Linked DNA regions of Homo sapiens. The protein of the gene in region 2 purifies or fractionates together with the protein of the main gene of each other region. This does not show direct contact. Each region holds a gene or a part of one and is shown on either strand. Other genes may lie near its edges. The genes, in order: ARID4B and SLC25A17.

The links.
Region 1: the proteins of SLC25A17 (region 2) and ARID4B purify together in Homo sapiens (affinity purification with mass spectrometry; one large-scale study listed by BioGRID and IntAct). This does not show direct contact.

Annotation. Positions count from the first base shown.
Region 1 is NC_000001.11:235,177,886-235,181,715, forward strand, and holds part of ARID4B (AT-rich interactive domain-containing protein 4B), read right to left. Parts: coding exon 3,700-3,830; intron 3,300-3,699; coding exon of another isoform or gene 3,208-3,299; exon of another isoform or gene 3,186-3,207; intron 29-3,185; coding exon 1-28. UniProt on the Homo sapiens protein: Acts as a transcriptional repressor. May function in the assembly and/or enzymatic activity of the Sin3A corepressor complex or in mediating interactions between the complex and other regulatory complexes.
Region 2 is NC_000022.11:40,771,692-40,774,629, reverse strand, and holds part of SLC25A17 (peroxisomal membrane protein PMP34), read left to right. Parts: intron 1-610; coding exon 611-693; intron 694-2,938.

The DNA.
Region 1 (3,830 bases), on a different chromosome or scaffold from region 2:
TCTTTCACTCTTTTCTGACCTGTACAGGCTATGAAGGGAAAGGAATTAAGTAACACAAAATAAAATCCAACATTCCCTAAGTATAAATTAATTCCACATTTTAGAAACATAGAACAATCCAAAACTACATGTTCTTTATGACATTTATAAGTTGTCACAGAACTTACTACAATTTTTAAATAAACTGTCATTAATGGAAGCTCAATTCTTATACATAATAAAAGTCAGGGTTTTTAAAAAGGCAAACAAAGTATGCACATCCTTCTTTAAAAAAATCAGATATAAACTGAAAATAGTCCTTAATATAGTACTGGGAGTTTATAAGCCTAGTAATTAAAAGTATATGCTGAAAATAAAAACTGAAATTTGTTAAGATTCAATAAAACCAAAATATTAAGACTTAATCACAGGTTAAAATGTTAATGACATTATGTCTTATAATCATATTAATATAATTTTTAAATGATATAAATGAGGTAAATTTTAGCAGTAATTCATACTTGGTTCTTTTTTACCAATTTATGTCAAGAATAACTAAGCTCCCAGGGCACTGTTTGGTTAACATGCATACCATTTACAAATCCAACATAGTAGTTCTAAAAAACGTCTCATCTTCTTGGTGGGAAATTATTGCAAAACATTACAAATAAATGTCTCCCTTTTCTTCAAGGACTAGCCCAAGTCCTACATCTTCACTAAGATGTTCCAGGCTTCACTGATCAATCACTACTCTGAACTGTAGCATTTTTCTATACTACTCATTTGGTCCTTAACATCTGCTATATTTCTGTCTAATTCATATATGTTATCTCTCAGACTATATAAAGTAAGATTTTTTCTCCAGAGACTAATAAAGTACTATCTCCATTCAGTTCCAATGTCAGACACCAAATCAACCTTCTGTGTATAAAACCTAACTTCCTTGATCAAAAACAGGACAAGTAATTAACTGTCTGCAACTTCCTAGCTTTTTTTTAATGGGTCATATAATCTTACTTACAACTTTTCCTAATACCTTTTTAAATTTTTAATATTTCTTTTTTATTTTTTACACCAAGTATGTGACCCACCTAATGTCATTTTAATATCACAATTTAAGTGAAACATAAAGGAGACGTAGATATTGACCATACTGAAGCACAGAACCATAATTGTCAGGTTTCTCTCCAAGAGAGTTTAATTCTAAAGTGTTCAGATACTAAGAAATAAAAACCTTCAATGTAGAGTAAATTAAGAGGAAAAAACTACATCTAAATAGTAAAACTTAAATTTTAACTTGTGATATAGTGGGGAGTCTCCAATATTCATAGTAAGTAAATTTATTAAAATGTGGCCATGTGAAACAGGTGCTTAAGAACCTATTTCTGGCTGGGCGCGGTGGCTCATGCCTGTAATTCCAGCACTTTGGGAGGCCAAGGTAGGTGGATTACCTGAGGTCAGGAGTTCGTAGACCAGCCTGGCCAACATGGCGAAACCCCATCTCTACTAAACAAAATACAAAAATTAGCCGGGCGTTAATCCCAGATACTCAGCAGGCTGAGGCAGGAGAATCTCTTGAACCTGAGAGGTGGAGGTTGCAGTGAACCAAGATTGCACCACTGCACTCCAGCCTGGGCAACAAGAGCAAAACTCTATGTCTCAAAAAAAAAAAAAAAAAAAAAAAAAAAACCCAACAAAAAGAAAAACACCAATTATTTCTAAAGAGATATAAATTACCCTAAATTTAGGAGTAGCTTTCAAATTCCACAATTATTAACCTAGTCAAGATTAAGATTCAAAAGGGCAGTGTTGACTTAGTCTATTAGCAGAGAAGATATCCTCTTTTTTTTTGTTGTTAATTTTAATCTTTTGTAAGATATTACGAACATAATAAGGATACAACCTCTTAAAAACTACAACAATAGGCTAGGCACGGTGGCTCATGCCTGTAATCCTAGCACTTTGGGAGGCCAAGGCAGGCAGATCATGAGGTCAAGAGATAGAGACCATCCTGGCTAACATGGCGAAATGCCATCTCTACTAAAAATACAAAAAATTAGCTGGGCATGGTGGCACACGCCTGTAGTCCCAGCTACTCAGCAGGCTGAGGCAGGGGAATCACTTGAACCCAGGAGACGGAGGTTGCAGTGAGCCCAGATCACACCACTGCACTCCAGCCTGGGCAACAGAGCGAGACTCCATCTCAAAAAAAAAACCCCCAAGAAAACCTATAACAATAAAACCTGTTTTTTTCTTTCTTTTCTTGTTTTTTCTTTTTTTTTTTTTTTTTTTTTTGAGACAGGGTCTTGTTTTATCACCCAGGCTGGAGTGCAGTGGCGTGATCTTGGCTCACTGCAGCCTTTCCGGGATCAAGTGATTCTCCCTCATCAGCCCCCAAGGTAGCTGGGACTACAGGCATGCGCCACCACAGCTGGCTGACGTTTGTATTTTTGGTAGAGATGGGGTTTTGCCATGTTGTCCAGGCTGGTCTTGAACTCCTGGACTCAAGCGATCCACCGCCTTGACCTCCCAGACCTCCCAAATTGCTGGGATTACAGGTGTGAGTGACCACACCTGGCCAGTAAAATCTTACTGTTGAAAGCCTAATATTCTGAAATAAAGGATTCTTTCATTTTGAAGATTAGTCATGCCTGGATAGTTCAGTTGCATGAGATAGTATGGCACAGATAAAATCATAGTAGTTATACTTGTAAATGTGAAAAAAAGCAAAGAACATTTCAATTTAATTGCAAGTATTTTTTTAATTTATTTTAAAACAGAAATGTTTTAAGTCAAGATTCCTGAGAAAACATAGAATTAACTAATTTGATCTAGACCATATCTCTTTAAGCTTTGCTGAAAACCTAAAGCTAGCATTCTAAAATCTTTTACGGTATATAAAAAACATACTCCAGTGCTCTGTCTTTACGATGGAAAAGTGTGTTCCAAAGCCAGGTGTCAGCCTAGAGTATACTGATTTAAAGATACCTGAATGAAGTGGTTTATAAGAAAAATGATGACAGAAGTATGGCTATGGCACCATCGAAAGGCACTAATACTTTGGGAAGGTACCGATTTGAATTTCCACTTTTAACAATTTCACGGAAAATCAAAAAAGTATTACTGTAGGTTATTAACGTACACATTGGTCCTTCAATTTGGAAGCTATGCATCTAAGAAAGCATCAAATTCCTTTACAAACTCACACAAGTTAGTCAGGCTTGAAAATCAGTTTGACACGGTTGTCTGAGGAAAGCAGTGCCTGGACAGTTGGTTGCTCCAAACCCCTACATACAGTATTTGGTTAAGGGTGGAGGGGTCTGTCAATAAATCAAAATGTTCGTGAGAAACTGCACATTACAATTGCAAAAACAATGTTACAGAAATAGATTTAAGCTGCTCATGCCATATAGTCAACCACTGCATATAATGAATTCTCAAACAGGTTTGGATTTGGGCCTGGGTGCAATTTCTAGCATGTGTTCTGGTCCACAATAAAATGCCATGGATGGCTCAAGCAAAGCACATTAAAGCCTTCTCAAGCTTTTAAATGCATTCCACTATTCATTTTCAAATTACCTTTAAAATTTCCATTTTTACCATGTTCACACAAATATGACACTTAATCGCCTCAGGTTATAACAAGAGATACTGTGAAATCATTGAAACTTTAAGAGGGGAAACCCTAAAATAAGTCAACATACACATTTTCCTTCTCACCTTTTTCAGGATGTTCTGGTTCTGGCTGATTACTACTGCTTGAGCTCACACTGGCATCAAAACCTGCTGGCGAGCTATTCCCTTCAGACTGGAGGTCTTGGAGCTCCCCAGCAACACTATCCACCTCAATT
Region 2 (2,938 bases):
TAAATCATCATCCTGGGCATATTTTTTTCTTTTGAGGTAGAATTTTCCCTATACCTCTCTATAAAATGAAAATTATTATGCTTGCTTCATTGAAAAATTTTTCTTAGGCCGGACATGGTGGCTCATGCCTGTAATCCCAGAACTTCGGGAGGCCGAGGTGGGTGGATCATTTGAGGTCAGGAATTCGAGACCAGCCTGGCCAACATGGTGAAACCACATCTCTGCTAAAAATACAAAAATTAGCCGGGCGTGGTGGTACATGTCTATAATCCCAACTACTCGGGAGGCTGAGGCAGGAGAATCACTTGAACCTGGGAGGTGGAGGTTGCAGTGAGCCAAAATTGTGCCATTGCACTCCAGCCTGGGTGACAGAGTGAGAAGATGTCTCAAAAAAAAAAAAAAAGGAAAAATTTTTCTTATTTTCACTTATTTGATTGAAATATTTCACTCAGTTGAAAAATACAGGATTAATGAAATCTATGGTACTAATTGGATAAATTTATTAATGTATGCTATAAGATACTACTCCAACATAATATCCTCCCCAGGTAAAAATGAAGATTTTAAAAAACAGCAACAGTACTTTTGTTTTTTTTCCCTCTTTCCTCAGTTTGGGCGTCATAGACTAAACCCAGAAAACAGAACATTGGGAAGTCTTCGGAATATTCTCTATCTTCTTCACCAACGAGTAAGGTGAGCTTTGTAGATGCCTCACATTCCGTGCTCTCCTTCAGCAGCCATCTCTGCCAGGGAGGGGTTGCATTTCCCTCTCTCACACTACTGCCTTGGTGGTGGCAACCTCCAAAACCTTTCCCTTGCTTGCTGTGCTTAGACATTTCCCATTTTAGGAGCCTAGTACAGTATGACAGCATTTTGGGAAATTATGGAAAAGTTCAGGTTCTTATTCTTTGTTAGTTACAAATATTCAGAACTCCTTCAGAAAGAGAACCCTTCTATACTTCAGTCACCCTGAGTGTGCTTTCATCAGTGGCATATCCTATGATGCCTCTTAGCAATATAACATCTGCCTATAGAATAGGAGTACTGGAGAAGGGAGGGGGCAGTGGAAAAAGTGATAATAGTGATGATGATGATGATAATGATGATGGTGGTGTTGGTAAGAGTAGCTAACATTTTCAGTGGTTTGCCATGTGGCAGACACTGACCTAGAGGCTACACATAGGTAATCTCAATCCTTTTTTTTTTTTTTTTTTTTTTTGGAGACAGAGTCTCGCTCTGTTGCCCGGGCTGGAGTGCAGTGGCGCTATCTCCGCTCACGGCAAGCTCCGCCTCCTGGGTTCACACCATTCTCCTGCCTCAGCCTCCCAAGTAGCTGGGACTACAGGCGCCTGCCACCACGCCTGGCTCATTTTTTGTATTTTTTAGTAGAGATGGGGTTTCACTGTGTTTGCCAGGATGGTCTTGATCTCCTGACCTCGTGATCTGCCCTTCTCAGCCTCCCAAAGTGCTGGGATTACAGGTGTGAGCCACCGCGCCCAGCCTTGTCAATCCTAACAGTAGCTCTGTGAGTTAAGAACTATTGTCATTTCCTGTTTCATTTAAAGAAACTGACACTTAGTGAAGTCAGATAAGTCAGGGACCTCCTTTGAAGCAAAAGCTCTTATAACTTTATTACTGTTCCTAGATACAAGATACTTTGAAAATAAATTTATTATTAAAATAAAATATGCAGCCAGGCAAAGTGGCTCATGCCTGTAATCCCAACACTTTGGAAGGCTGAGACAGGAGGATAGCTTGAGGCCAGGAGTTCAAGACCAGCCTGGGCAAAGTAGTGAGACCCTGTCTCTACAAAAAATATTTACAAAATTAGCCAAGCATGTGGCACAAACCTGTAATCACAGCTACACACGAGGCTGAAGCAGGAGATTCACTTGAGCCCGGCAGATTGAGGCTGTACTGAGCTATGATGGCACCACTGTACTCCAGCCTGGGCTAAAGAGGCAAGACCTTGTATAAAAAAAATAAAAAAAAAAAAAGAACATTCAAGGGACTAAAAGACAAAATTAGGCTGGGCGTGGTGGCTCACACCTATAATCCCAGCACTTTAGGAGGCCAAGGCAGGCAGATCGCTTTAGCTCAGGAGTTTGATACTGGCCTGGGCAACATAGTGAGACCCCGTCTCTACACAAATAAAAAATTAGCTAGGCATCCTGGTGCCTGCCTGTAGTCCCAGCTACCCAGGAGGCTGAGGTGGAAGGATTGCTTGAACCCAGGAGGTCGAGGCTGCAGTGAGCTGTGATTGTGCCACTGCACTCTAGCCTGAGCAACAGAGTGAGACCTTCTATCAAAAAATAAAATAAAATAAAAGACAAAGAATATGTATAAAGTAAAAAATAAATACTCACTATATCAAGTATTGGGAGGGATGTTGGAGCAACCAGAACTTACTTTCTTATGCTGCTGGTGGGAATATAGAATGGTACAGCTGCTTTGGAAGGCAATTTGGCATTTTCTTTAAAAATTTTTATATACCACACCTATTATAGGACCCAGCCATCCACTTCAGGGTATTTACCCAAGAGAAATGAAGGCATATGTCTACACAAAAGCTTGTATACAAATGTTAATAATGGCTTTGTTTTTTTTTTTTTAATTTTTTAATTTTTGATTTTTGTGGGTACATAGTAGGTATATATTTTTGAGGTATGTGAGATGTTTTGATACAGGCATGCAAAGCATAATAATCACATCATGGAAAATGGGGTATCTATCCTCTCAAACATTTATTCTTTTTGTTACAAACAGTCCTATTATACTCTTTTAGTTATTTTTAAATGTACAATTAAATTATTATTGACTATAGTCACCTGTTGTGCTAGCAAATACTAGGTCTTATTCAAACTATCTATTTTTGTACCTATTAACCATCCCCACCTTCCCCCCGCCACTACTCTTCCCAGTAGTCTCTGGTAACCAT